6 separate regions of the Homo sapiens genome follow, and all the other regions are reported to be linked to region 1. Evidence: microRNA targets listed by miRTarBase, many of them from high-throughput screens and not tested one by one. Region 1 holds a microRNA gene; each other region holds the end of a gene's coding sequence.

Region 1 (5,110 bases):
CCCTGGGGCCCTGACAAGCTGTCCTGGCTGGGATCCCAGCCTGCCCAGTCACCCCAGAGTCCCGCCACCTCCCCTGTGCCTGCCTCAAACTCCCAGAGGGATGGAGGTCTGCCATGTTGAGGACACCGCTCAGACCAGAGCTCTGGGTCCCTCAGCCATCTCCCACCCCATCCCCTGCAGGGTGTCCCCATGATCAACCTAGCCAAGTGTTTGGATAGAAGAATTCATTCTTAAAGTAAATGAGAAGGGTAAATACCTCCGTGGGAGGGCCCAGGTACCCGTGGGAAGACCTGTTTAGCCCAGAAAGGGAAACGGATTGGCCCAGTGACCAGGTGATGGGTGCATTCACCAGACACCACGCCCCAAGGGGACTTCCCAGGAAGTGTTGTCTGCTCACAGCGGCAGGTCCTGACCCACCGTGCTCAGCCCTGGCTGCCAACATGCCGCCCCAGCTCACTGCTGCAGGTGCGCAAAAGGACAGAGTGAAATACCCTGAGTTTCTCCCCAAACAAGGAGTTTTCAGTAAGTACACACCGCACTCATTTACTCCATTCACAAAGGTTTATTGGGTCCCTGCCTGGTGCTGGTTTGGGTTAGTCACTGTAGAGGATCCATCTGGGCCAGCCTGGGAGGGGCAGGTCTGGAGTCCGAGGCAGACACGAAACCGGGGGTGACACCCAGGGGCTGTGGAGGCTGCCATGCTGAGGACAGCTCTGGGAGGACCGCTGAAGAGGATGACTAGCGGGTGGGGAGTGGGGTTCAGCCATCTCCCGGGAGCTGGGAGGGCCCAGGTGGAGGTGAGGGCAGCAGAGGAGGAGGAGGAATGGGGGTCTCCAGGTAGAAAAAGGGAGCAGGGAATAGCATGAGTGGAAGCCCAGAGGAAGGAAAGTACCCGGAGGGTCTCTGTGCTTCAAGAGGCCAGTGGAGGGGACAGAGACAAACGGCCAGTGGTGAAGCAGGGCTGACACCCTGGCAGCAAGGACACTGAGGCACACACCTGCCATTCACCAGCACTCTCCTCCAGGTGTGCACCAGCTCCTGCCCGAAGCCTCAGGAGGTCCTCCTGCAGGGGAACACAGGGCCACCAGAACCCACCCCACCCCAGAGGGAAGTCTCAGTGACAGCCTCTCTGGGCCCTGGGAGCTGCTCTACTGGAATGGAGAGAGAGGCTGTACCCATTGCAAACCCGCCTACCACGCCCCGCACTGGGGCAGTGAGGTCCGGCGGGGGGGTCCGCACCAGGGTTCACCAAACCCTCCCTTTCAAGGGAAGACTGCCCCAGGAGGATGGGCTTGGGATCAGAAGGCCATCCAAAGGCCAGCCCTCCCCTGGCTCTGCCAGGGCCCTGCTGCCTGTCCCCTCCCCGCCTCTCTCCAAGTTGTTCCTGGACACCAAATGGACCCCATCCAACTTGTCCCTCCTTTTCTTTCCCCTGCCCGCCCCCTGCTGGAGTTGTAAGAGGGCAGGCAGAAAGGGAGGTGGGGGAGGCCCAGCCAGGCTGGGGGACAGGAGAAGCAGCCCCAGTTCTAACTCTGCTTCCCCCACAGCAGAGCCTGCCAGGCCCCCGAGGGCCGGGACCTCTGGGTGATGCCTGGCACTCCCCTAAGTCACAGGTGGAGCTGGGCCTTTGGCCAGTACTCTCCCTCCTGACCACTGGGATGGGACAAGACAGTAGGGGCAACAGGTAGGAAGGGCCAGGTCTAAGGTGAGCTGGGGGTGCAGCCCTAGAGAGAGGTAGGAAGGAGGGACAGGGGTTGCTCTGGAGGAGAGAGGGTTGCTCCAGAGGCAGAGGGAAAAGACAACTGGAGTGGGAGTCAGTGAGCCAGGTTCTGTGTTCCAAAGGCCAGCATTGCCTGGACCTTGGGTCTGTCCTCACCTGCATAAGAGGCTGCAGGAGCCAAATGGGCCTTCCAGCCTTGTCCAATATTATGGAGTCCCGAGGTGTGGAGTGTATTCTGTGGGCCCAAGAAACAGCAACAGATCCCCAGAACAGATGACAGCCCTAAAGAAAGGCTGCTTTCCTGAGCATCCCTGGGGCTAGAAAGAGTGTGGATCAGGTGCTTCCTATTGGGCTGGGCCTGCAGAGGGGACAAGAGGGGCCAGTCTTACAGCCACCCAGACCATACTTTCCACACACATGCACATGCGCACACACACTTGCACACACACACACACACTTGCACACATATGCATGCACATGCCACCAGATCTCAGCCAGCACAGAAAGGCTCTCCCAGCCTTAGGTGGCTTATGCATTTTCTGAAACTAACTGTGGGAAAAGGGCTTGGGGAACCATCCCATGTGCCTGCACCAAATGCTGTGTGGGTGGGGCAGGACACAAGCCCTACACTGACACCTCCCAGAAATCAGGGAATCAGAGCTTGAGAGATTGTCCAGTAAAAGTTGGAACCCTCAACACCCCTTGACTCTGCCCAGGAGGAGCAACCTCAGAAGCCCCCCCAAACCTCCTCTCAGAGACCTGCCGAGTAGGAGGCTTCTCTCTCTACTCTCCTCCCCGCAAAAAAGAGGCCAGAAAAGAGGATGATTGGCTAACTCAGAGGTGCCCTGATGGAGGGGAGCAAACAAGGGGACTTCCAAGGAGAATTCCCTAGCCCACCTGAAAGACCCCTACCCAGAGTGGTGAGGGGCAGCTTAGGAGCACTGACGCAAGGGGGAGAGACCAGGCTGGCTTCCCTCTACGTAGTAAGTTCCTGGGGTGTGCGCCCCTGCCCCAGACAGCAGAGAAATCGCCTGACTGGGAGATGGAGAAGAGGGGCCACCTTCTCATGCCACCCCGCCGCCAATCCTCCAGGCACACTCGGGCGCTTGACCTGCTGAAGCCTGTAGCCTCAGGTCCAGTGAGGAGCTCACGGGACAGAGGGCCCTACCAGAGCCACGAAAACCGGAGGGGGGGACCTCCGCCCAAGGCAGGCGTCTCTGCGCGCCCGCTGGGGCCCTGGTCCTGCAGTTGGCTTCTCCCGACACGTTCCTTCGCTGCCGAAAGCGATTCGCCCGCGCTCTACCGAGCCCAGCCAGCTCCTACCTCGGCCCGGGCGGCGAGCGCTGTCTCCGTCCCGAGAAGAAGTTTCGCGGCTGGTCCCGGGGCGGCAGGCGCACGGGACGCTGGCGGCGGCGGCGGCTTCCGACTTGGGCTCAGACCCCGCCGCTCCAGACAAGTCCCCGCGACTGCGACAGTGTCTCGGGCAGTTCAGCTCCCCAGACGGGAGACAGACCCTCGCGACCTGGTTCAGGCCTTGCCCTGGGGGACACTGCAGTCCAAGGCGAAAGGAGACTTGCTCCCGGCCTCTGGGTCCCTAGGTCAAGGCACCTCCCCGCCCCGCCGCCCCTGAGCCCAAGTCGCCAACCCCGCGCCGCGCGCAGCGAGGGATCAGAAGGTCTCGGACGCCGCGGCAGGGCCGGCCAGGGCCCCACGAGTTAGGGAGTTGCCCCGCACCCCTAAACGCTCAGCACCCATTTACGGTTGAAAGTACGCACTTGACGCGTCCGGGCGCCTCCGCGGTGAGTCGCGCCGCCGCTCTCGGGGTCCGCGAAGGTGGCTCAGTTCGGGCGCTCCAGTCTCGACGTTCCCGGGGTAGAGAGCAACGTCCGGGGACGAACGGGACGGGTGCGCCCAGCGGCCGGGGCTGCGCTGGGCGAGGCAAGCGGCGAGAGGGGAGCGCTCCGGCGTTCAGGCAACAGCTACCCCTAGTGGGAGAGCCGCCCGGGGCCGGCGCCGCCCCGCGCCCGCTGCCCCGCGCCCCACGCCCGTGGCGCCCCGCGCCCGGGTCGGCTGGGGGCGCAGGGCCGGCGCCGCTTTCCCCAGCTCTCCGGTCTCCGGCGCCCGGCGGTAACCCGCCCGCGGGCTCTGCCCTCCGCACCTCTCAGCCCGGCCCCGGCGGCCGCTGACCCAGGAACCGCGGCGCCCCGCTGGAACGAGATGGGACGGGGCGGGCGCGGCCAGGGCGGCGCGGGCTGGGGCGGCGCGCGGCAGCCTCGGGCAGCGGCGGGGGGCGCGGAGCGCGGTGTGCGTGGCGGGGCGGTGCGGGGGGCGGCCGTGTGCGAGGCGCGAGTGTGAGCGCGCGCGGGAGGCGGGCGGGCGGGCTCCGGCAGGCGAGCGGCGCCCGCGGGCGAGCCAGGAAGGCGGCGGGAACGCAAAGTTGCCTCCTCGCTGGCCCGCGTCCTCGGTGGGGCGGGAGCCGGGGCCACCGAAGCGGCGGCCGCGGACCCGGCCTCCCGCGGCACCTGGGCAGCGGCCCCGCACGAGCGGCAGCGGCGTGGGCGGCGTTGGCGGCGGCGCGCGGGAAGCGAACCGGAGCTCCGGCGCGGCTCGGCGGCCGCCGGGGAGCTCGGCTCAGGTGCGCGGCGAGGGGGGCGCGGGCCGGAGCCAGGCGGCGGGGACCAGGGCGGCGCGCAGCGCTCGCGCCAGCTGGAGGACCTCCCCAGCGGACGCCCAGGTCCCTGGTCGGGCTCCCGGTCCCCAGCGGCAGCGGCTGCCGGAGTCCCCCGCCCCCGAGAGCTGGCTGCGGGGCCCGGGCCCGCCCCCACCGGCCCCAGGCCCGGCCGCTCCGCCCTCCGCCCGCCTGCGCCCGCCCTCAGCCCAAGATTTCTAGGGCATTGGCCGCGCTGCTGGGTGATCCCTCCGGGCTCAAGTTGCAAGGGGGCGGGCCGGGCCGGAGGTGGAGTCTCCCGCCAATTGAAGCCTCCGCTATAAATTGAACTCCCTGCACTGCTGAAGCCCAGATGCCTCGCCAGGCCACGTCGCGGTTGGTGGTCGGAGAGGGCGAGGGGTCCCAGGGGGCTTCGGGGCCTGCAGCCACCATGCTCCGCTCCCTGCTGCTTCACTCCTTGAGGCTCTGCGCCCAGACCGCCTCGTGCCTCGTGCTCTTCCCGCGCTTCCTCGGCACGGCCTTCATGCTCTGGCTTCTCGATTTCTTGTGTATCCGCAAGCATTTCCTGGGCCGCCGCCGCCGGGGGCAGCCCGAGCCCGAAGTGGAGCTCAACAGTGAAGGCGAGGAGGTGCCTCCCGATGACCCGCCCATCTGCGTGTCCGACGACAACCGCCTGTGCACCCTGGCGTCGCTCAAGGCGGTGTGGCATGGCCAGAAGTTGG
Region 2 (5,089 bases), not on the chromosome of region 1:
CAAAACTGATGGACTCTCTGCCTGGGAATTTTGAAATAACGACGTCCACGGGTTTCCTGACAGACTTGACCCTGGATGACATCCTGTTTGCTGACATTGATACGTCCATGTATGATTTTGACCCCTGCACTTCCTCATCAGGGACAGCCTCAAAAATGGCCCCTGTGTCTGCCGACGACCTCCTCAAAACTCTGGCTCCTTACAGCAGTCAGCCTGTCACCCCAAGTCAGCCTTTCAAAATGGACCTCACAGAGCTGGACCACATCATGGAGGTGCTTGTTGGGTCCTAAGACCCAGGGACCCAGCGACTATGCCCACCCAGACCCCAGAGCGTTCCCATAACCCTGACAGTTCTCCACACTGTGCATGCACCCTTGCTTGCCTTTTTCAGAGAAAAAGAAAATTTTACAACAGGATCACACTAGTTTTTGCTTTGAGCAGAGTTGGAGTGCCTTCATCCAAGTATGACCACTTTTAATACACTTTTTTGAGTGGTTCCTCAGAGACCTACTACCCTGGTATAGGAAAGAATCCATTTGAAGACAATGTTGCAATGTTGAATGACAAAAATAAACAGTTCAAGTGAAGCACAAGGATTAAGTTGGAAAAGCTGTAAATTGCATGTGCATATTTGTCTATTTTTTCTATAAGTTTTATTGCAAGAGGTAAAGAAGAAAACTATATATATATATCTTATTTAGATAATCTCAGTACCTTTTCTGGCATTTTTGCCCTGTATAGGTTGACTTGGCAATTCGGCCTTTTTAGAGGCATTAACTACTCCTCGTAAGTGTTGCATTTACATGGCTGTTTAGAAAACTGCTGCCCAAATTTATTTTATATTTTTGTACAGATTCTGCAGTTTATGATATTGTTTTTCTAAAAACAAATGCTGTTTATACATATGAGATAGCTATTTTGATAGGATTTGCTCACATAGTTCCTGCAAACTTCAGATGTACAAGTTGCACTTGTACTTTTATAGAGTTGTAATGTTTTATATGTGTATGGTGCAAGAGAAAATTGGATCAAATCAATCTGCAGTTGATGTCCCCAAATGCAAACACAGGCACACACATGCACACACCCATAAACACACACACAGTGCTTTAAGAAAGGGCCAGGTGATATCACACCCAAATTTCACAAGCACTGACCCCCTGGCACCAACACCCGCCAGTACTGTGACTTCCAAAGCCAGAGCCACATGTGCTCATCAAACTTGCATTAAGCAGTTGGCGGGAGATGGCTGTGGAGCTGGGGGTTTAAGTGATGGTTCTCTTTTGCTCCCTCTTTTGAGGGTAAAGCTACTGTCTTTCTTAAGAGTGTATTTATGCCAAGTTTGCGCTTTTAATTGTTTTTATTTTGTTTTTTAATGAAAACCCAGATCTTTCCTTTTTGGCATAATTTTTATGATGACCTGAAATTTTACATCCGAACAAAATTTTACATCCGAAAAGCAACCAACTTCTTCATGGAACTCAGCCCTGTTGCAATGCTTAGGGCCCTTAAAGAAGAAAATCTCCCCAGAAGGCATCCATCATGTTGCTTAATTGTCTTCTGCAGCTTCCTTTCCCTAGAGCTTTCCCTGTGTTGCTAAGAGCTGAAAATGGCATCTTCGTGATCACCACAGTGAGCTTGGCTCGCCTCGGCCGGCCCGGGATGCACTCTTACAACATGTGTGACTCTTGAACCTGGAGTTCATCACATTACGTCACAGCTTCCCATCTGGTTGCTTTCCTGAGTCAGCTACTTCACACTTGTCAAGGCTGTTTTACCCCAAAACTCAGACAGGACTTTCTATGCATGTTTTCCCTCCTCCCCCCAATTCCCCCCCCCATCACCTTATCTCCCAGGACACACTTGAGAAGTAGCTTTTTATTCCTAGTGGTGTACATTTAATTTTAAAAAGGTTGCAATGTATCATGCTTGTTGCCGAAACTGTTTATGGCCTTCTTGTTTCAGTTTTTTCTTTTCTTCCAATGGTACTTTAGCTGTTGAGTGCAGGTTACAACCTATATTGTTATGCAGATGGCTTCTTTAGGAATAACTTTTATATTTATTTAAAAATTTTTAAATTATGGGATGTTTTGTTGTTGTTGTTGTCTTTGTTGTTGGTCATTTGTCAATATTCAGTCACCAATTCTGCTCACTTCTTGCCATGGATAAAATTGGGTCTTTCTGGCTAATTAAAAAAGACAACTTTATAAAATGGCACTTTAAGCAAGCCATAGTTAGTTTTATTTTTGTAATGCACATGGCAAAGCAAAGACGTTTGTGATGAAGGAACTGCTCATCTAAGCAAAAGATTTGAGTATGATATGATAAAGGCTTTCTACATTCTAATTTACTTTTTCCCCCCACTTGAATGTGTTTTAAAGGCTAATTATCAGCTCAGTAGAGCAGTGAGAAACTGATCAAATTGCACTTGTTCTCCTACAAGCAACCTCCACGCAGACACCTCGTACTGCTACAGGTGTGTCATTTCCTTTAATAGGACCAGGGACCATGTAACTGAGGTGAGGGTTGTAGTAGATGCTTCCAGTGTCAGTATGCCTGTTAATTTTAAGAGCTTCCCTTTCTTGCAGAGAACAAGTCTGCCCAGATTCCATGCTTTCTATAACTGGAGGACCTGGCAAACCTGCCGCATGCTGCACACATCTACCTACGTACACATATACAATAGTATTGATGATTCTGAACAATAACAGGGTAAAACAGTTGGTTTGCCATTGTTAAAAACTGATTTACAGTAACTTACAACAACTGTACTTTTGTTGGATTAGCAAATCATGTGTTTAAACAAATCCCATATGTTGGGCAACAGTTCAAATAAGCACGGAGAAGTGTTGCCCAAACTTGGTTCTCTGACTCTTATGTATTTGTAAGGCTGGGCTTCAAAATCAAAACAAAAACCCCAAAAACAGCAGGCAAATGCTTTTTAACTCTGACACCGTTGCCATAAATCCCTGATACTCAAAGTCTAACAAGAAAGACATGGAAAATTAGCAGCCCATTTTCAGAAAGATCAAAATGATCTAGGGTTCTAATTGCTTTTGCATCCTATTCTTACAAAGTGATGTCCCAACAGGGAACAGTAGGAGCTGGAGTGGGATCTCCAAGTCCCAGTTTGAGTGTGGGATGTGCTTCCAGCAGTGCCTTCCCTTTATGAAAGACATCACATGGCATCCAGGGCCAGGCAGGCAGCTTGAGGTGCCTTTACGAGAAAACCGAGCTGGGGCTGGGAGAGGACAGTTATTGACACTGATGTGCAATGAAGTGACAAGATGAGAGCAGAATCGTAAGAGCTTTGAATTTGAAGTGAGTTTTTTTCCCCCCATAAGTTATTTATTCCTTTTTTCTGTGTAAATATATTTATTTTACTGTGGAGCGCTAACATCTGGATCGTAACATGTGCAGAATGTATGGTAGGAATGTATTCTCTTGTAGGAATGTAAATCTGTATTAAAAGGGGGTCCAAGCCAGGCCCCCAGGTCTTCTCATTGTATGCACAGTCCGCATTCATTTTTACTCTTCTCTAATATGGGTCTATTTGAAATATGCAAAAGGTATGAGGAATGTTTTAATACCTCCAAATTTTTAAGAAAAGCATCAAAGGGTTGATATTTTTTAAAGTTTTTTTAGTAGCACTTTCTCTGGATGACAGAAGGAGCAACCACATGGGCACCCTTGTTCATACCAAAGGGTGAGCAGTGGCCAGAGCCTCCTCTGCACCTCTCGAGTGTCTTTACCAATTGAGCTTTTTATCGCCATAGCCCCTTGGAGTGCCCCAGCTGCCCTGAGGTCAATCAAGGAAAATTTCTTAATGAAATAAGCTCCAAAGAGCCAAAGTATCAACTTACAGATCGTTTTTAAAGCTTAAATTTATGAACCACCTTTGTGGTAAACAATGAATTATGAATACCGCAGGGCAGCCTTCTTAAATGACAAATGTAAAAAAAAAAAAAAAAAAGACTCTACTTCGTGCAGCAATTGCTACTCTATACGAATTGTCTTAATTTGAAAACCTTGCTGTTACAAATTGGACCTTTATACATTTTCTGAAAACAATGAAAAGAGTATATTTAACCTTTTCTGGCTGTAAATGGTTACCTTCCTGTAACTGCCCCGCACCTGGAGGCATGGAGTTGTGTGCATCCTGCTTATGTACAATTGTTTTCAGTGTTTCTAAGAATGAGTCTGAATGGTTCTTGAAAATTAGCCAGGATCAAATGCTATTGCAGACAAAGCCAATAAAAAGTTGGACTTCTTTTGGGGATAACAAGTTTTGGAAGAGAAATGCAGGCCATATGTGCGCATGACCGAGATTTTGAAAAAAGATGTACATAGTGACATGTTTGGTGCATGGTTTTTGAGGAGGGCTTTTGTCAAAAAGGAGGTATAACCTTTCCCCCACAGACCTGAGAGCTGTGCCTTTTCTATGCAATATTACAGACGTTACATCGGAACCCAGATGGCTGTATTCACATGTAGGTTTGGGCTGTAATCTAAACAATTGGACAGATTAAATGTACATGGAAATGAGCAGTCTTACTTTTGTAGTTTTATATTATACAATAAACAGTTAAAAGATGAGAGAGGCATGCTTGCAGTTTTCTTTTGATGGGAGCTCAATCAGCTTATTTGTGACAGTTTGCTCACATTAAGCAAAGTCCAGCAAGAGAGAGCAGCAGGGGGGCCCCGAAGGAGTGCGTGCTGTTGGTCTTCCTGAACCGTCCTGGTCTCAGGAACCACCCTTCTCTCCTGGTTCTCCTCCTGCTTCTTGGACCCTTCTGGACCTCCTTTTTCTCACATCTGTGCCCCAGCTCTCTTTAAAACATTGTCTTTTCCAGGGTTTGGCCCATGACTGCACTTCACTGAGCCTCCATTCCTGCTGCCTCTTGCTTTCCCAAGGTGATCTAATCCACTCAGGACTCTCAAAACTGGTCTCCAGCCCCTGCCTCTCTCCTGAGCTCCAGACTTCAGTATCTACCAAGATTTGCTCCCTCACTCTCAGCGCGTCTAAAGAGCTCTCGTTTCCCCTGGGGGCTGATTCTTCTGTGGGCTCGTTGTCTTCAGCACTCTGCTC
Region 3 (5,000 bases), not on the chromosome of region 1:
GAGAGCAAGATAAACAATTTGTGTCATGTATAAAATGAACAAAACAAAAATGAAAAAGAGCTGTTCAATCTTTTTTTTTTTTTGTCTTCTCTTCCTTGGGAAAAGAAGGCTGGAAAAATAGCCTGAGCTAGGAGTCTGAAGAGCCATCTATTTAACTATCATCTTCAAAAATATTTATTCTAAATATTATCTTGACTACTTAATTTTTCCTTCTTACTTAGAAATCACAATGCCTGCCTTGTAGTTTGTTGTAAGAAGCAGACAAGTCGTGGAATATGAATTTGCTTTGCAAACAATAAGGTCATAGATGCACATGGGACATTTATACAGGAGAGCAGATCATGAGTGAGCCCAGGCTTGGATTCTGTCCCTGCAATCTTGGCAGCCATGCAGACCTCTTTGAATCTCAGGTTTCCCACCTCTAAATGAACTTGTTCTGAGTTCATAGGTCCCTCAAAATCTAAACCGTTACCTACTTTCTAGATTTCTCCATAGCTTCATATAAACAGATTTTTTTCCTAAGAATTTGTTAATTTAACCTATTGGATTAATACTATCATTGAAATGTGTATCAGATTTTAAGTATCATGATTTTATTCCCAATAAAACAAAAAATTATTTTCTATGATGAATATGCATACAATAAAAATGACGAGAAATCATTTTTGGTACTTGTCTGAAGAACTCATCCCCAATTTTTGCCTTTTTTGCTTTGCAAAGCACATTTTCTTGTAGGAACATATTTTCAGGGTGAGATGAACAAGTCATAGTTATAAGTTCTTTTTTTTTTTTTTTTTTGAGACAGAGTCTCACTCTGTCACCCAGGCTGGAGTGCAGTGGCGCGATCTCTGCTCACTGCAAGCTCTGCCTCCCGGGTTCATGCCATTCTCCTGCCTCAGCCTCCCGAGCAGCTGGGACTACAGGTGACCACCACAATGCCTGGCTAATTTTTTGTATTTTTAGCAGAGAGGGGGTTTCACCGTGATGAAACCAGGATGGTCTCCATCTCCTGACCTCGTGATCCCCCCACCTTGGCCTCCCAAAGTGCTGGGATTACAGGCAAGAGCCACCGCGCCCACCAGTTCTAAGTTCCGATACATGTACTTGCTACTTAAGAAAAACATGCCGAATTTAAAGCAAATAGTACTGTAATAAAAAAATCTGATTTTCCTGAAAATGGTTTAATTTTATGATGTAAATGCAAATCTTAGAAGTAAAAACTTTTTTCAAAGAAGACTTTTATCAGACTCAATTAGCAGTTAAATGGGTAGAGAGAGGATGTCAGTGTACGAGAAGCCATATGGAGTTTTGGGTGGCCAGGAGCAGGAAGTCAGGCAGGTTTGGCTTCAGTTGTACTACCTAGAGATATTTTGGAAGAAGCTAGAGTGAACTGTGTACATATATGAGTTTAGATTTCATAAGACACTTAGCTTTACTGGAGTTCACTGCAGAAAATGAGGGAAAGAAAAATGTTCTCGATGTATACAAATGCCACAGACAGTTGTTTTTACACCTACTTTATTTGATAGCTTCTAATGGCTGAAGGAGATTTCAATATCAAGTAGTTGTTTGTCACAAATGTGCCTAAAAATAACTTTAAAGATCTTTGTAGGGAAGCAGAAACTCTTAAGTCCAGATGTTTTCTCAGGATAACTAAACCTGGTAAAATCACCTATATAGAAGTAAATAATATTTTATGGCCACATCTGCAAAATGAAATATGATCATCTTCATTGTCGATATAAAAACAAATGAAAGTTATGGGTAATTTTTGATAAAATGAATTATACAAAGCATCATTTATATTTTTATATTTGGCTTTGGGACATAAGGCAATATGGAGAACTTATGTGACACTGACACAAACACACACACACACACACACACACAAACTCAAGTACTCCTCTCTGCCTCATCCTTATTCCTTTCTGAGATCAGCCCATAATATCAGTAATCCTCTGCTGAACTAAAATAATATTTTTGCTCCAAAAGTCTGCTAGGGAAAACATCTATTAATATATGTTTTTAAATCAAATATTTCCAGAAATGCTTACAAGTCCCTTTAAATCTAGCAATGATAGCATAATAAAGGGCATATTCTAGGGAAGAAAATGCCCACCTAAAGTAGAAATTTACCAGTTAAAAATCACAAAACATCAAAAACTATTTTCAAGGATTATTTCCATTTACCTAATAGGTTTTTCCATTTAAAAGTTATAAAATATTTAAAAAGAGAAAACAGAACATTCAAATAACCTTAGTTTTTCAGTTTTACAATCAAGGAGTTGGACTAGATGCTATTTTTTTTTTCTCAGCTCTAACTATAATTTTAGTCAACATAAGAAGACGTTAAAATGTGTCCCACTGGTTCATTCAACTGTTAATAGAAAAAAGTGGCTTAAAATTGTGAAGTCTGAAAGTATAGCCATTCTAATTTACAGATAACAAAGGCAAGTCCTAGGAAGAAAAGTGACCACCCAAGGGCATCCATCCATTCAGAGATCAAGCAATGTCACTGTTTTCAAATCTGCCTGATCATCAATATTTTGCTTTGTTTTGTTTTGTTTTATTAATGGTTCTGGAGTCCCAGTCCCTACCCCTGGAAATTTTGCTTTAGTAATATGGGGTGAGATCAGAAATTTCATTTTTTAAAGAGATCCTCAATATTCTAAGGAACCACAGATCATACCAGACTACTTGGGATACACTGGTGGAGAGGAACAGATAGGTTGCACAGTCCTTGGGCAGGCTCTCCATTGTCACACAACAGCATTTTCCTAACAGGTCCGTCATTTTATGACCCAGGGTTCCTCTTTCCTGGTGTTTTCTCCCCTCTAGCTGGAAAGCATATTATGAGAGTGATATTACTTGGTGTCTAGTTTACTTTTCTTTGATAGCTTCCTGTGGAAAAGGATCTTCCTGAAGGAAATAAGAATTAAAAGAGTAGATGTATAGACCTTAGTTACCATCCAATACAAATCACTCTAGACCTTTAATTCCACTTAACTACCGAAACTGTCCTTACAGTAAAGTATGAATCTAGACATCACCATGCTACAGTCTTGAGCCTTTCAAGGAAGTCTGCAATTTGAAAATTATTTTCTTTACCTCAGGTCATGGGGTACAATGAAGTGAATTTCTCTAAATGGTTCAAATACATCATAAGGAGATGGCTCTTGGAATACATTTGGCATAAGAATTTCTTAGTAAAAGAAAAGCTTAAATAGAGTTAATATCTAATAACATAACATAATTGGTTTTATATAGTGACAGTAGAGAGCAAAGTTCCTTCTAAAATCTTCCATTTAGAATTCCAAGCCCCTCGACATTCATATTTCTGTCAGTTTTCAATATAGATTTTATGTGTTCACTGTATGCAAACTGTAGCCAAAATACACATTTCTATTCCTGATGCTACTGTGGATGTCAAGGTTTAGTTTAAGCCTTTTTTCGGTAGCAAACTGTGAGAAGTATAATTTCAGCTTTCAAAGAAATATTATTCCTGATCTTCCTTGTTAGTAAAAAAGTAACTTAGTTTGTTATCTATTAATTTTAAGGAAAAGATTAGAAAAAGGAAAAAAATAATAAATGACTTACCTCTAAGTATGTATGACTCCATGTTAAAGCAGCTAAACTAAAAGCTTACCACAACTTAAAGAAAAACTAAAATTCAACATCATTCAGTTTCTTTTTGCATCCCATTTAGGAAATGTTTGTTGCTGAGGCTGACAAAATAAATTCATCATTTAATCATGTCATTTATAATGCAGTCTCATGATACTGTCTCTGAGGATCAAATATTCAGTTAAAGCCATACTAGACTACCAAATAATATATAAAACATTTATGAACATTTTATGCTTGCTTTACAAGGCTGATCTATTAAACTTGTGACATTTTTATTTAAAAAGAATAAACAAGAATATCAATGGTATTATTTTATCCTTATATGGGTTAAGAAATTATTTATGAGTTGTCTTTAGAAATCTACCAATGTTAGATGTGTGCATAATTCTTCTTTTTCATTGTAGCTGGGGGCCAAGGAAGTGGTCAATTAATATTTGTACTGCAAATGCCTTAAGTGGATACCTATTAAAAGGTATACAAAATATAAACAGTACTGCATATTTTCAAAACTTTTAAATAAACACAAAGAATATATAGGTATACATGTTATAATTTCAAAGTCAACACTAGCACATAAGTTTTTCATATCTAAATACATACTAGGATACTTCCTATTTCAACACATGCACCTACAAACACATGGCCATGCACATAACCTTACTTTCTGCCACTTGCAACAAAGAATATACAATATTGTACATTGTTTCAACTTATATTGTATTGGAAAACTAATGAGGATGGCATTAAAAAATTCTGATCTAAGAAATCAAAATGCAGGAAGATAATTATTCCTTAGATTAAAAACACTGAAGACTGATGGAAAGTTAAGATTCAAATTGCTTGTCGGAAGAGAACAGGTCCGCCTGTAAACACTCAGAATGCTCTGTTTGACAAGTGGGACTAGAACTTCTGTAATATAGCAATCCAGGCCAAAGACTTAAACCATCAATGCTTCGGATCGCAGAGAAATGGTATAGTTGTGGGTAGTTCTCCGCAAGGCAGGGGGTGCAGATGGAGATCTGGATGCCCATCTGGAGGGGAGACGACGATTTGCTGGTCTAGCAGGTCGGGAAAATCCTTTTCCATGTGAGGCGTTCACTGACATGGATTCCTAGGACACAAGTAAAAACATTCCTCTCACTCTCTGGGTACCAACAATAGGCTTAATATATGATGGGTCTCAACTATAAGATTAGTCCGTTAGTAAATTTACAAGAAAGAAAAAGCATTGAAAACTAAAGAAGGTAGTTGTCTAATATTTGTGGTTTTGAATGTTTTAAAGCAATTCAATTTTAATATGGAATATGATATTTGATAATTTTGTACCTTTCCTTACACTGACAAATTTTAATACAGTTAATCTCTCTGTAGAA
Region 4 (5,110 bases), not on the chromosome of region 1:
ACTACCACACCCAGCTAATTTTTGTATTTTTAGTAGAGACGGGGTTTAGCCATGTTGGCCAGGCTGGTCTTGAACTCCTGGCCTCAAGTATCTGCCCGCCTCGGCCTCTTAAAATGCTGGGTGGGATTACAGGCATGAGTCACCGTGCCTGGCCACCGTAAGTGTTTTCTATATTAAAAACAATTGCTAAATAATTTTGTATCTTAAGGATATAATATTATTTACTAGACCATTGCATTTTTATAAATTCATTTACAAGGATATTTTGTCTTATTTTCCCAGGCCTCAGCTGTGTCGGTATGATCTTGTCCTGATGGAAAACGTTGAAACAGTCTTCCAACCTATTCTTTGCCCAGAGTTGCAGTTGTAACTGTTGCCAGGACACATGGCCATAAATAATAGAAAGAAAGCTACAACCACAGGCTGTTTGAAAGCTTCACCTCACCTTTCTGCAAGGCAGAAAAAGTATGAAAAAAACCAAGGCTTTTTTCAGTAGCGTCCTATGGATGTCACATTGTACATCAAACAACCTTGTGATTATAAAACGATCCTGGGAAGGAGCCCCTAACTAGGGCAAGTCAGAAATAGCCAGGCTCGCAGCAGCGCAGCGCTGTGTCTGCTGTGTCCTGGGGCCTCCCTTGTTCCGACCTGTCAATTCTGCTGCCTGTCACGCGGGTGGTTCTGCCCATCGCGGCTGCGGGTCAAGCATCTTCAAGGGAAGGACGGACTGGAGGCCTCACCGTGGACTCAACTCTGCATTCTCCGTGCCACATTCCTCCAGTTCCCACACGTAGAAGGGAACGAAACTGACGTCTACCTCATGGGGCTGCTGTGTGGGTTTGGGAGGCAAAAATCTATGAAGGGTTTTTTGAAATCCCATAGGTGCCACATCTATGAGATGTTTGATAAATGTGAATATGCTTTTACATTTGGGCTTATCTAATTTGCAATAAGAGAGCCTCTCTCTATCAACACCAGCTTCTCTCTCGGGCTGTTTGCTCAGGGAAGGCAAGAAAGCCACGTGCTGGCCCTCTGCCTTCTCTAAAGTGCTGTTGGAGCATGGAGGAGCTGGAGGAGATGGGGATGGACTGACAGCTAAGAGGGCGGCTGCTGGGACTAGATAGTGGATGAAGAAAGAAGGACGAGGAAGCCGTGGGGCAGCCTCTTCACATGGGGACAGGGGATGGAGCATGAGGCAAGGGAAGGAAAAGCAGAGCTTATTTTTCACCTAAGGTGGAGAAGGATCACTTTACAGGCAACGCTCATTTTAAGCAACCCTTAAGAAATGTTTATGTTTCTTTATTACCAATGTAATCTATGATTATTGAAGGAAATTTAGAAAATGCGTAGATACAAAATTAAAAAAAAATACTGTCCACGATCCTATTAGAGGTAATTAATGTTAGCCTTTTGGAACAAGGCTGTCACCTATTTTGCCAACACGTGAATTCAAAACATGAACCGGTTTGCTTTTGGAGAATCTGAAGACTCCAGTTTGAGGAATCCTTTGCTTCCCTGGAGGTAGATGCTGTCTGCAAATCTAGAATGACAGCAGGAGTCCAGTCAAGAGGTCCTGTCAGGCCAAGGCCAGAAAGAAGGGAGGACAATCCCTGGGGCCAGATGCCCAGTGTGAGGGGAGGCATGATCTGTCCCATGGCTGTGGCCACTGCAGGAAGGTCTGTGAAAAGGAGGTGACAGGCCCAGTCACCTCCTCTTCACCCAAGTGATTGCTCCTTCAACTGCTATCTGTGAAAATAGCCTTTGTTATGAAGAAATTGACTCTCTCTCTCTTTTTTTTTTTTTGGAGTTGCCTAGGCTGGAGTGCAATGGTACGATCTCAGCTCACTGCAACCTCCACCTCCCAGGTTCAATTGATTCTCCTGCCTCAGCCTCCTGAGTAGCTGGGATTACAGGCATGTGCCACCACACCCGGCTAATTTTTGTATTTTTATTAGAGACAGGGTTTCACCACGTTAGCCAGGCTCGTCTCGAACTCCTGTCCTCAGGTGACTACCCGTCTCGGCCTCCCAAAGTGCTGGGATTACAGGCATGAGCCACCACACCCGGCCAAAAATGGATTCTCTATGTCATAAATTAAAGAAATCTATAAATGTATTCCTGTGTGGCACATCTTCTTACAGATTTACATTTGCAGCAAATACAGAGTCTGTTTTATTTAAGTGAGGGATGACTGAACTCTGAGTGGAACAAGCTCTTGGACATGTTACCATCCTTCCTCCTCCTTCTCACATTTCCTCAGCAATTGTGGATAGAGAGATCAGTGTGCTGTAGGCCCTGGTTTTTTTTTTTTTTTTTTTTTTTTTTTTTTAGATGGAGTCTCCTTCTGTTACCCAGGCTGGAGTGCAGTGGCACGATCTTGGCTCACTGCAACCTCTGCCTCCCGGGTTCAAGCAATTCTCTGCCTCAGCCTCCCAAGTAGCTGGGATTACAGGCGCCCCCACCATGCCTGGCTAATTTTTGTATTTTTAGTAGAGACCTGGTTTCACCATCTTGGCCTTGAACTCCTGACCTTGTGATCCACTGGCCTTGGCCTCTCAAAGTTCTGGGATTACAGGTGTGAGCCATCGTACCCGGCAGCCCTGGTTTCTTCTTAGTTTTATTGGTCTGTGTTTTGATCAGCACAGTCACTTTTTTGTTCTCTTTCCTGGTAAGCAGGGAGTCAAAACAATAGCAAGAAAATGCCAGAAATAGAATTTCTACTACTTTGTAAACTCTAGGCTCGTGGGTCTCCTAGCTCTCAGTACCTGGCTCACTGTAGGATGGGTAGATGGGTGAATGAATGGATAAAGAAAGGAAGTTTGTTCACCGGAGAGGAGATGAATTTCAGTAAGTTTCATGTAACAGTGATCAGGAGAAATAAAGGCAGTTATAACTGTGGCCACTCTGTTCTCAGAATCTTTCTTCCAAGGGCCCCTGGAACTTTTGACTGTCTCTTGTTATCCTTGCTTCTCTTCCCCTCTCTTTCTCAGTACCATATATCTGTCTGAGTGCCAAATTCAAAGCACAATTAAATTACAGTCTACCCTCTTCCCTCCCCTCTTCACTGGTGACCTCCTACTCATCATTTGGATCGTGGCTCAATTGCCACCTCCTCAGGGAGTCTTCTTGGACCTTATTTCCATACAGAGAGGTTCCACACTGTACCTCTCCTTCATAGCACTTTTTAGTTGTATTTTTAAACATTTTTTCTTTTTTTTGAGACGGAATCTCACTCTGTCACCTAGGCTGGAGTGCAGTGGTGCAATCCTGGCTCACTGTAACCTCTGCCTCCTGGGTTCCAATGTTTCTCATGCCTCAGCCTCCCAAGTAGGTGGAACTACAGGCCAGTGCCACCATGCCCAGCTAATTTTTGTATTTTTAGTAGAGACGGGGTTTCACCATATTGGCCAGGCTGATGTCAAACTCCTGACCTCAAGTGATCTGCCTGCTTCGGTCTCCCAAAGTGCTGGGATTACAGGCGTGAGCCACCGCACCCAGCCTGTTTTTTTTATTTTATTTGCCTGATTATTTGATAAATATCTGTCTTCTCCACTAGACTGCTCTGCAAGGCAGGAGCCATGTGCTTACCATATAGTCTGCTTTCAGGAAACATTTATTAAATGAACACTCTTTGTTATTTTCTGAGCCCCATGGAACCATGTTCAGTTGTGAGTAAAGACTTGCCCTCCACCCTAGCCATAGTCTGTTTCCATGAGGGTGCCTAACCTTCTGTGCCTTAGACTTTTCTCCCAGACACCTTCATTACTATTGTCTCCATTATCTTTGGAGGCCAATAGCCCATTTCCCAGACTTCCTGGAAAAGAGAGAAGTTGGCTCCTTTGTCACTTTTTTTTTTTTTTGAGATGGAGTCTTGCTCTGTTGCCCAGCTGGAGTGCAGTGACCTGATCTCAGTTCACTGCAACCTCCACCTCATGGGTTCAAGCTATTCTGCCTCAGCCTCCCGAGTAGCTGGGCTTGCAGGCACATGCCACCATGCCCAGCTAATTTTTGTATTTTTAGTAGAGACAGGGTTTCACCATGTTGGCCAGGCTGGTCTCAAACTCCTGAACTCCGGAGATCTGCCTGCCTTGGCCTCCCAAAGTGCTGGGATTATAGGTGTGAGCCACTACACCCTGCCCCTTTGTCACTTCTTATCACATCTTCCAGGTGGTCCCAACACCTCACAAGCTCACCTGTCGAAAATCTAGGGGATTTTGTCCTTACATCCTCATTTTAGCACCATTGCCAAAATGCTCCAGGACCTTACAACATTAGTGGAGGATGCCAAGCTGTAGTTATAACCCTCCCTTGTTTGCTTTTCCATGACTCTCCTTTCCACCACTCACTTTGCTGCCAACTTCGTATGTTGTATTAGTCCCTTCTCAGGCTGCTATGAAGAAATACCCAAGACTGGGTAATTTATAAAGGAAAGAGATTTAATTGACTCACAGTTCCACATGGCTGAGGAGGCCTCAGGAAACTTACAATCGTGATGGAAGGGAAACCAAACACATCCTTCTTTACATGGTGGCAGGAGAGAGAAGAATGAGAGCTGAGTGAAGGGGGAAGCCCCTTATAAAACCATCAGATCTCATGAGAACTCACTATCACGAGAATAACATGGGGGAAACTACCCTTATGATTCAATTACCTCCGACTGGGCCCCTCCCACCACAAGTGGGGATTATGGGAACTACAATTCAGGATGAGATTTGGTGGGGCCACAGTCAAACCATATCATACGTGCTTCTGTCACTGCTGTTACGCTGTGTTGTAATTTGTTTCCGTGTCTTTAACTCCTCCAAGACTGTGACCTCCACAAGAGCAGCTGCTATTTATTTTTGGCTCTCTAGCACCTAGCACAATGCTAGGCACAGAGTAGGTGCTTGATAAATGTCTGTTGGACAGAATGGAATGGATGATGCTTAGAAACTTGAGGGAATCACCTCCATTCTGACTTAGACATCAACACACTTAACAATGTTATTTCTAAAGTCCTAAACTTAGAACCTCCTACCCTTGGGCTCCTGCCCCTTGCTCTCATTCCTATAGAACTCCATTATAGCCAAGGAGACTTTGGATGCAAGGGACAGGAATCCACTCACACCCC
Region 5 (5,096 bases), not on the chromosome of region 1:
GAAGGCAGGCTACGTCCTGGGAAACATTTTGTTATCAGACATGCTGCTGTTAACACAATGTATATGGAAAGTTTGGTGTGAATGCAGTAGATTTAAGTTTTGCTAGTGTACTTTTTCCATGCTAATTGAAAATGGTCATGTTCCAACATGATTTCACCGCTTCGTTGTTTCTCTCCCATCCTTCTTTTAGTTGGCTGATTGCAATTCTGGCCCAACTCAACCCTCTCTTTGGACCGCAATTGAAAAATGAAACCATCTGGTATCTGAAGTATCATTGGCCTTGAGGAAGAAGACATGCTCTACAGTGCTCAGTCTTTGAGGTGACTATGCTTGTGACCTTTCTTATCAGTATGGTCAGGCAGTCAGAGTTTGCCTTGACTTTTTCTCACATTTTATGGCCATTTTAACACGTGGCAAGGGCAAGCTGCTGAATGCAAACACGATCTGAAGAGCAGAAATAAAATTGGAACTTAAGCCTTAGCTTACCTAAATCTCATTAAGATTCTTTTTAGATTCTGCTATCACCCTGCCTTTTTAAATAAATACAGTTTAATTTACAAAATTAAGCTTGCATGCACTCTTTCAGACGCAGATCAAAAAAGTAACTGTTTATACTTGGCATTGTGAGATCCAGCAACTTTAAAAAGTGGCTGGCAGATTTAAAATTGAGCAGGTTTCTTTCCAGCAGTAGTCAGCCATCCGGACAGAACCGTTCCTGTGATGGTGTTACACTGCTGGGAGAGGAATGTCTTGTCTTCATCCGGTTGCCTGCGCCACTGTTCTGGTGGCGTCTGGCACTGGTGCAAGACAGAGCTGTGCTTCCCCGAGAGTGTGCTAAGCATTCACTTTGGCTGCTTAGTTCTAGTCTGGGAGCAGACAGAGAAAACAAAATTAAGGTTTTTGAATGCTTTGGATGGAGAAAGGTGCCTGCGTCCGTTTGTTTTGTGTTGCTATAAAGGAATACATGAGACTGGGTAATTTATATTTGGCTCGCAGTTCTGCAGGCTGTATAAACATGACACCCGTATCTGTTTGGCTTCTGGTGAGGCCTCAGGAGGTTTTTACTTATGGCAGAAAGCAAAAGGGGGGCAGCCGTGTCATATGGCCAGAGAGGGAGCAAGAGAGAGAGAAGGAGGTGCCAGGCTCCTTTAAACAAGCAGCTCTTGTGTGCACTAACAACTACTTCACTCGTTACTATGGGGAGGTATATTAGCCCATTTTCACGCTGCTGATAAAGACATACCCAAGACTGGGTAATTTATAAAGAAAGAGAGGTTTAATGGACTCACAGTTCCTCGTGGCTGGGGAGGCCTCACAATAATGGCGGAGGATGAAAGGCAGTTCTTACATGGTAGCAGCAAGAGAGAATCAGAACCAAGCAAAAGGGGTCTCCCCTTATAAAACCATCAGATCTCGTGAGACTTATTCACTACCATGAGAACAGTATGGGGGAACTGCCCCCATGATTCAGTTATCTCCCACCAGGTCCCTCCCACAACACGTGGAAATTATGGAAGCTACAATTCAAGATGAGATTTGGGTGGGGACACAGCCAAACCATATCAGGAGGGTACCAAGCCATTCATGAGGAATCCACCCCCATGACCCAAACACCTCCCACCAGGCCCCACCTCCATCATTGGGGATCACATTTCAACATGAGATTTGGAGGGGACATATAATCCAAGCCATATCAGTGCCTTTTGAAAATCAGTCTTTGGTCGTGCGCGGTGGCTCACGCCTGTAATCCCAGCACTTTGGGAGGCTGAGGCAGGTGGATCACGAGGTCACGAGATCGAGACCACGGTGAAACCCATCTCTACTAAAAATACAAAAAATTAGCTGGGCACAGTGGTGGGCGCATGTAGTCCCAGCTACTCGGGAGGCTGAGGCAGGAGAATGGCTTGAACCCAGGAGGCAGAGCTTGCAGTGAGGCGAGATCGCGCCACTGCACTCCAGCCTGGGCGACAGAGCAAGACTCCGTCTCAGAAAAAGGAAAATCAGTCTTAAGGTTGCAGCTTCTATTTGTCCTGAGGGTCAGAGAGGTTAGTAGTGGTATAGTGGAAAGATTTATTCACTGGCCGAGAGTCAGGAAACCTCTTATTTAATCTGTTCGTTGTTTTCATTATTTTGTTAAATGGAAGTTAGCTTTAAATGCCTTGACTAGATTTAGGTTCAAGTTTTTTGGCTCTTTAGGTGTTACTGTAAACTGTGTATTGCCTCCCATCTGGAGAAACAGGATGTCTGGCTCTGGCTCTCCTATGTTTAGTAAGGCTGATGTGATCACTGGGTTCAGGTAATGACAGCCTGGTTCCTTCATTTGTAAAGTCCTTTTTATCAAGTGATTTTATCCATTGATGATCATAGCCTGAATTAATCATTTTAGTTGAAATGGCAAATGGTGATTTGCTGCTGCTGCTGTTTTTTGTTTTTGTTTTTGTTTTTAATTGAGACAGAATCTCATTCTTGTCACCTAGGCTGGAGTACAGTTGCACAATCACGGCTAACTGCAGTCTTGACCTCCTGGGATTAAGCAATCCTCCTGCCCCAGCCTCCCAAGTAGCTGGAATTACAGTCATGAGCCACCATACCCTAACTTTTTTGTTTTTGAAAGAGAGTCTCTGTCACCCAGCTGGAATGCAGTGGCACCATCATGGCTTACTGCAGCCTCACACTCCTGGCTCAAGTGATCCTCCTGCCTCAGCCTCCTGAGTAGCTGGGACTACAGGCACACACCACCGTGCCTGGCTAATTTTTAAATTTTGAATAGAGACAAGGTCTTACTATGTGGTCCATGTTTTGGCTAATTTTTAAAATTTTATTTATTTTTTATAGAGAGAGAGGGTCTCTTTCTATGGCCCAGGCTGGAGTGCAGTGGTGTGATCATAGCTCACTGCTGCCTTGAATTCCTGGGCTCCCGAGATCGACCTGTCTTAGCCTCCCTAACAGCTGCAGGCACGCAGCACCACGTGTGACTTTTGTTTTGTTTTGTGGAAATGAGGTCTCACCATCTTGCCTAAGTTGGTCTCAAACTCCTGGGCTCAAGTGATCCTCCCACTTTGGCCTTCCAGAGTGTTGTGATTATGGCCATCAGCCACCGTGCCTGGCCGCAAATGATGATTTTTCCAGTTCTATTTTTATTTATTTATTTATTTATTCATTTTGAGACAGAGTCTTGCTCTATCACCCAGTCTAGAGTGCAGTGGCACGATCTCAACTCACTGCAACCTCTGCCTCCTGAATTCAAGTGATTCTTCTGCCTCAGGCTCCCAAGTAGCTGGGACTACAGGTGTGTGCTACCACACCCAGCCAATTTTTGGTTACTTTTAGTAGAGATGGGTTTTCACCATGTTGGCCAGGCTGGTCTCAAACTCCTGACCTCAGGTGATCCACCCGCCTAGGCCTCCCAAAATACTGGGATTATAGGCGTAAGCCACCATTCCCGTCTGATTTTTCAATTGTATTATTACCTCTGCATTTGATGAGCTGAAATGCTTCTATAAAGATAACTTTCCTGCCAGGCACAGTGGCTCATGCCTGTAATCCCACTACTTTGGGATGCTGAGGCAGGCAGATCACTTGAGCCCAGGAGTTCGAGACCAGCTTGGGCAATATTGTGAAACCTTGTCTCTACAAAAAATACAAAAATTAGCCAGGCAAGGTGGTGCACACCTGTAGTTCCAGCTATTCAGGAGGTTGAGGTGGGAGGAGAACTTGAGCCTGGGAGGTGGAAGTTGTAGTGAGCCAAGATCGCACCACTGCACTCCAGCCTGGGTGACAAAGCAAGACTCTGTCTCAAAAAACAAACAAACAAAAAACTTTTCCTCATCAACAGGATGATCTAATAGACTTGAAATATAGATCATGGGGCCGGGCACGGTGGCTCACCCCTCTAATCCCAGCACTTTGGGAGGCAAGGCGAGTGGGTCATGAGGTCAGGAGATCGAGACCATCATGGCTAACACGGTGAAACCCCTTCTCTGCTAACAATACAAAAAAAATTAGCCAGGCATGGTGGTGGGCGCCTGTAGTCCCAGCGACTTGGGAAGCTGAGGTAGGAGAATGGCATGAACCCAGGAGGTGGAGCTTGCAGTGAGCGGAGATTGCGCCACTGCATTCCAGCCTGGGCGACAGAGCAAGACTCCGTCTCAAAAAAAAAAAAAAAAAAAGAAAGAAATACAGATCATACAAAAATACGGGAAAAGCAGAATACAGGTTTAATTCTTTTAATTTTCATAGTAAGATGTTGGTGGCCAAGTTCCAGGGTATTCAATGAGATTTTTTTTAAATTTTAAATAATTATATTTTTTACCCTTTATATGGTTGTGTTTTGTTGTTGTTGTTTTTTGTTGTTGTTGTTTTTTGTCTGTGAGAACCTGTTTAGGATGGCTTCTATGTACTTTTGGTGTTAGTTTTTGGTAGTTTCCTTACTTTCTGGCAACATCAAAATGTCCAGGCCCCTCTTCTATATTTTCTGTCCGAGACTTAGATTTAGCTGTTCTTTGAATTGGTTTCTGAATTCCCCACTAAAAGGATGTCTGGTTTACTAACAGTTCTCAGGCCCATTTGACTCTGGTTCTGTTCAGTGGAAATGGCATTTAAGAATCACGATCGGAGTGCTAGGTGCGTTTGTTGCTGCCTGGGGTAATTAAGCATAATTGCTTCTAAGCCTTTTCAATGGAAAGAACCAGGAAGTAATGTATTTTTCAGATGAAAAATAATCTTAAGTTTACATTAGTATTTTCTCTTCAAATATAACATTACAGAGTTTTTATTTTATTTTATTTTTTTCTTTTTTCTTTTTTTTTTTTTTTGAGACAGAATCTCGCTCTGACGCCAGGCTGGAGTGCGGTGGCGTGATCTGGGCTCACTGCAACCTCTGCCTCCTGGGTTCAAGCGATTCTCCTGCCTCAGCCTCCCAAGTAGCTGGGATTACAGGTGTGCGCCACCACGCCTGGCTAATTTTTGTGTTTTTAGTAGAGACGGGGTTTCACCATGTTGGTCAGGCTGGTCTCGAACTCTTGACCTCGTGATCCACCCACCTCAGCCTCCCAAAGTGCTAGGATTACAGGTGTGAGCCACTGTGCCTGGCATTC
Region 6 (5,000 bases), not on the chromosome of region 1:
ACACCACTGCACTTCAGCCTGGGCAACACAGTGAGAGCCCATCTAAAAAAAAATTCTATTATTAAATGCTGGATTTTGTGTACAGTTAAGATATATACAATTGAGTACAATTTAAGTTTTTGTGTGGGTTTTTTTTTTTAAATCATATTCAGTAAAAATTGTTTTGTAGCTACACCACCTGAAACTCAGCAGTCACCTCATCTTAGCCTGAAGGATATCACCAATGTCTCCTTGTATCCTGTTGTGAAAATCAGAAGACTTTCTCTTTCTCCAAAAAAGAATAAAGCAAGCCCAGCAGTGGCTCTGCCTAAACGTAGGTGCACAGCCAGCGTGAACTATAAGGAGCCCACCCTCGCTTCGTAAGTATTTGGTTTGTGGGAACTTATTTTTAATGATACATGTCGGGGGGAATAAGGTTATGGAGCTTTGTTCAAGAATGAGTTTTTTCTGAAATATAAACATTTGATTTAAAAAAACTGAAGTGAGAACATTTAAAATTGGTGTGTTTTACCATAACTTGGTAGGGAAGAGTAAGTTAATATTGGGATGCTTACATTATGCCTGAGATCTCTTTTTACTCTTACAGGAAACTGAGAAGAGGGGACCCTTTTACAGATTTGTGTTTTTTGAATTCTCCTATTTTCAAGCAGAAAAAGGATTTGAGACGTTCTAAAAAAAGTATGAAACAAATACAATGAAGGTTTTGTTGGATATTGTTTAAATTCAATCTACACCTCTTTCTGTTGCTTCAGGAGAGGATCTGTAAGAGTACACAAACAGAGTGAGCCATTGCCATAGAATATTCTCTTGACAGGACCCTAGCTCATAAACATTTCTTCAGAACTATACTTCAAATGGGATGCTTTGTATTAAAACTTTAATAAATTTAATTTATTTTTTCTTTTGAATATAAATAACTGAGCTTAAGCATTATCATCATATCGATTTCTTATGCTGCCTAAACCTCTTAATTTTAGTCGAAATATATCTTTTTTTTTTTTTGGAGGCGGAATTTCATTCTTGTTGCCCAGGCTGGAGTGCAATGGCACGATCTCAGCTTACCGCAACCTCCGCCTCCCAGGTTCAAGCGATTCTCCTGCCTCAGACTCCCGAGTAGCTGGGACTACAGGCATGTGCCACTACGCCCGGCTAATTTTGTATTTTTAGTAGAGACAGGGTTTCTCCATGTTGGTCAGGTTGCTCTCAAACTCCCAACCTCAGGTGATCTGCCCACCTCGGCCTCCCAAAGTGCTGGGATTACTGAGCCACTGTGCCCAGCCCAAAATGTATCTTATACAAACATTGTAGAAATGAATAATGATTACTCAAATAAGATCTTTTAATTATAAGCTTCTGGCATCTCTATTTTTCCCTTAAGTAGGGGATACTAAAGTGAATGATTTTCTAAGAGGATCTTTTGAAACTCTTTAGTACAATATTTGAGTAAAATAAATTATTGTGGATCTTTTGAAACTCTGTGTAGTATTCGAGTAAAATAAATATTTGACATTTACAGTAGGGTACACCCTAAGTTGTTTATGAATTCCTTATACCACTGTTATATTTAATTTTTCAGATAAAATATGTATGGGAAAATGACTAGAGAAATTGATTCTTTTTTAGGCTCAGGGACAAGATAAGTGACTAATTGTGAACCCCAAGCTCTAATTGTATGTTCAGAGTGATGTCTCCATAAAATTACAAATGTCATGTACTTTCAGGGTAGCTCCTTATTTAGTCAGAAATCTCAGAGATTAAATGTGTGAATATTTAGGGTTTTTGCATATTTTTGACCAACCAATGAAAGCGAATTAGTTCAGTTTAGAAAGTTTGATGTCTATACTTGTATATACCTCTTTAAATTTTAGAACTTTGTAGGTTATTCATTTTTAAAGAGCAATAAAGTTTGTATAAGATAGTGATTGCTTTCCTTCTATTCTTTAAATATCAAAAATAGAGTATCTCTCTGTCTTCACTATTCTCATCCTTGGACATTTCCTCTCCCCTCCCCTTGGTATTCTCTTTTTTGAGGGGGGGGTGTTCTAGGTGAGTTAATCCTTAGTATTTTCAGTAGTCATTGCTATAAAACTCTCAGCTTCCCCTCCATACTTTCAACCTAACACTTCTCTCTCCCAACTTATCTCTGTGTAATCTCCCAGTTCATGATTAACAAATTATAATTTTATTGAGGGACTGTTCTAATCCTGATATCTCAGATTTTCTTGGCTGTTATCTCCCTATCTTTCTGTATTCTATGTCAGTCAGAGCCAAAATCCTTTTCATCATCCCAAATTTTTCTATCCGCCACATCACTGATTCATACACCCTAGTCTTCCATCACAGTCTCTTAATTTTTAAGTTTTTTTTTTCTTACTACTCCCTTCATACTTATTCTTTAATTTCATGGAAACACTAGAGTAGCTATCTTAAACTAAGACTACAGACCATTAAAAAGTCAGTTTCTCAGCCAGGCACGAGAAACTACTAACACCTGTAATCCCAGCACTTTGGGAGGCCAAGGCGGGCAGATCACGAGAGGTCAAGGAGATCGAGACCATCCTGGCTAATACGGTGAAACCCCGTCTCTACTAAAAATAGAAAAAATTAGCCAGGCGCCTGTAGTCCCAGCTACTTGGGAGGCTGAGGCAGGAGAACGGCGTGAACCCGGGAGGCGGAGCTTGCAGTGAGCCGAGATGGTGCCACTGCACTCCAGCCTGGGTGACAGAGCGAGACTCCATCTCAAAAAAAAAAAAAAAACAGTTTCTCAGTCCATGTAACCACCTTTCAAATGATCAGTAGCCATATGTGGCTAGTGGTTACCATATTAGACAATTGAGGAAATATTGAACATTTCCATCATCACAGAAAGTACAGTTGGACTATGGGCCAAATCTAGCACACCACCTGCTTCTGGATGGTCTTCAACCTAAGAATAGTTTTTACGTTTTTAAATAGTTGAAAAAAAAAAAAAAAAGCAAACATTTGAAATCAATTTTAATGATAGAAGCACTAACTTTGAACTCCAGTAAAGTACCTACATTATATTCTTGAGTTTGCCTCTTGGCCTACAATCCTAAAATATTTACTTTCTGGTCTTTACCAAAAAAGTTTGCCAACTCCTGCTCTAGACCATTGAGTACTTTACTTTTGCCTTAAAGATCATTCTGGTCTGACACTCTGATCTAGCTTTGATCCTTACCTTCCCTTCATCCCCAAAGTCAATCATTATCCTAAAATCAGTGTTGAATTGTTTGTATTTTTAGTGTTCCTATAGTCTTGCTGTCATATTTGTTCATAGGCTTTTAAGTATTGTTTTATATCTTAACATTTTATAGGAATATTGTACACATCATTTTACAACTGACTTTTAACTCAATATTGTTTTTGAGATTTATCCGTGTTGGCAGATGTAGATTATTTTCATCATTGTACAGTTTATTATATAAATCAGACTTATTCATTTCTTCTTTTGAGACACAATTCATTTCCACTTTATTATTTACAAATTAGTGCTGCAGTGAATATTCTGCATCTTTGTACACTTAAAGTGCTTAACTTTCTATAAAGTTAATACCTAGAAGTGGAGTTGCTTGGTTGTAGAGTATATTGAACTTTAACTTTACTATTAGTTAGGAAATTGCTTCCTACAGTGGTTCCACCAATTCTGTTATAAGGAGTATATCACTCTCCTAATAGCAGTTTCTAAGTTCCAGTAGCACCACACACTGTCGATCACTTAGTTTTATTAGACATTAAAATTAGCCAAGCCAGGAAGTATGAAATTATTTCTTTGTTTTAATTACTATGAACTTGTATCTGATTGATTTATTTATGAGAATTCAAGTGTTTATTATTCTCATTTCTTCCTTTATGAATTATTATATCTTTTGCCTGCTTTTCTAATAGAATGTAAAACTATGGATTTTTTATATAGTCTACACACTATTCCTTTTTTTCTGTTGACAAGTATTCTAAGTATCTTTCCTCAATCTCTGCCCTTTTTTATACCTTGCTTATAATTCCCTTTGATATTTAGGAGTTTTAAATATTAGTATCGTCTACCACCTTCTTCCTTAAGATTTTGTCTATAATTTGTACATTTTTGTTTTTCACTTTAAGGTCTTTAAACCATATGGCATTTATTTTGAGGACTAGGGATCTAATTTTATTTTTTCCCATGAGGATAACCAGTTGTCCCAGCACAATTCATTGACTAATGTCTTCTTTCCCCACTGCTGAATATTCCTAGCTTTGTCATAGAATGGGCTTCTTTGCATTGCTTTATTTGTTTAGCTTTATGCTGGGTATATTGTATAGTCACAATTTTTTTGTGTGTTGGTAGGGGTGGTAAATATACATAGAATTTATCATTTGATCTTTTTAAATTTTATTTTTGTTTTTTTATTCTCACTCTGTCACCCAGGCTGCAGTGCAGTGGCCAATCATAACTCACTGTAGCCTCAAACTCCTGGGTTCAAAGGATCCCCTTTACCTAGGACTACAAGCTTGCACCACTGCACCTGGCTAATTTTTTTTTTTTTTTTTTTTTTTTTTTTTTTGGTAGAGATGGGGACTGGCTATGTTTCCTAGGCCAGTCTTAAACTCCTGGCCTCAAGCAATCGTCCAATCTTACCTCCCAAAGTGCTAGGATTACAGGCATGAGCCACCACACCTGACCATTTTGATCATTTTATTTGTAAAGTTCAGTAGCATTAAGTACATTCACATGATTGTGCAACCATCACTACCCTTTTCCAGAACTACTTCTTCTTCCCAAACTAAAACTCTATACCCATTGAACAATCACTCTCTCTTCTCCCCTCTCTCCCAACCTCTGGTAACCACTACTTTTACTTTCTATCTCTATGAATTTGACTGTTCCAGGTACCTCACAGAAATGGAATCATAGGATATTTGTCCTTTGTGTCTGGCTTAGTTAGCATAATAATCGCAAGGTTCATCCATGTTATAGCATGTATCAAAATTTTATTCCTTTTTAA

The links. The annotated mature microRNA hsa-miR-1247-3p reads CCCCGGGAACGUCGAGACUGGAGC and lies in region 1 at 3,570-3,593, opposite strand. An mRNA with a match to its seed (bases 2 to 7 or 8) in the 3' UTR can be bound and repressed. Matches are read on the target gene's strand: a 7mer-m8 pairs with bases 2 to 8, a 7mer-A1 pairs with bases 2 to 7 and ends in A, and an 8mer does both.
Region 2: the mRNA of SERTAD2 is a reported target of hsa-miR-1247-3p. Seed matches in the 3' UTR shown: 7mer-A1 at 1,657-1,663.
Region 3: the mRNA of KIAA0408 is a reported target of hsa-miR-1247-3p. Seed matches in the 3' UTR shown: 7mer-A1 at 870-876.
Region 4: miRTarBase lists LIPH as a target of hsa-miR-1247-3p. Seed matches in the 3' UTR shown: 7mer-m8 at 2,400-2,406.
Region 5: miRTarBase lists ATP6V0E1 as a target of hsa-miR-1247-3p. The part of its 3' UTR that is shown has no 7-base or 8-base seed match.
Region 6: the mRNA of SGO1 is a reported target of hsa-miR-1247-3p. The part of its 3' UTR that is shown has no 7-base or 8-base seed match.

What each region holds. Positions count from the first base shown.
Region 1 is chr14:101,556,757-101,561,866 of GRCh38, forward strand. It overlaps MIR1247 (microRNA 1247), which reads right to left and starts at 3,666; the gene lies at 3,531-3,666. It overlaps DIO3 (iodothyronine deiodinase 3), which reads left to right and starts at 4,739. Exons shown (of 1, transcript NM_001362.4): 1 at 4,739-5,110. The coding sequence starts at 4,741. It overlaps DIO3OS (DIO3 opposite strand upstream RNA), which reads right to left and starts at 3,666. Exons shown (of 2, transcript NR_152588.1): 1 at 3,496-3,666.
Region 2 is chr2:64,631,128-64,636,216 of GRCh38, reverse strand. It overlaps SERTAD2 (SERTA domain containing 2), which reads left to right. Exons shown (of 2, transcript NM_014755.3): 2 at 1-4,596. The coding sequence ends at 290. Among named protein-coding and RNA genes, the nearest start is that of SERTAD2-AS1, 3.3 kb to the left of the region's middle.
Region 3 is chr6:127,439,545-127,444,544 of GRCh38, forward strand. KIAA0408 reads right to left here. Exons shown (of 6, transcript NM_014702.5): 6 at 1-4,738. The coding sequence ends at 4,565. It overlaps SOGA3-KIAA0408 (SOGA3-KIAA0408 readthrough), which reads right to left. Exons shown (of 13, transcript NR_174482.1): 13 at 1-4,738. Among named protein-coding and RNA genes, the nearest start is that of KIAA0408, 17 kb to the right of the region's middle.
Region 4 is chr3:185,504,050-185,509,159 of GRCh38, reverse strand. It overlaps LIPH (lipase H), which reads left to right. Exons shown (of 10, transcript NM_139248.3): 10 at 283-2,898. The coding sequence ends at 370. It overlaps TMEM41A-DT (TMEM41A divergent transcript), which reads right to left. Exons shown (of 3, transcript XR_924792.3): 3 at 4,416-4,897. Among named protein-coding and RNA genes, the nearest start is that of TMEM41A-DT, 7.5 kb to the right of the region's middle.
Region 5 is chr5:173,020,048-173,025,143 of GRCh38, forward strand. ATP6V0E1 (ATPase H+ transporting V0 subunit e1) reads left to right here. Exons shown (of 4, transcript NM_003945.4): 3 at 191-320. The coding sequence ends at 284. SNORA74B (small nucleolar RNA, H/ACA box 74B) reads left to right here and starts at 679; the gene lies at 679-882. RefSeq lists a silencer at 179-473.
Region 6 is chr3:20,166,402-20,171,401 of GRCh38, reverse strand. SGO1 (shugoshin 1) reads left to right here. Exons shown (of 8, transcript NM_001199251.3): 7 at 170-359; 8 at 587-1,918. The coding sequence ends at 698. Among named protein-coding and RNA genes, the nearest start is that of SGO1-AS1, 5.4 kb to the left of the region's middle.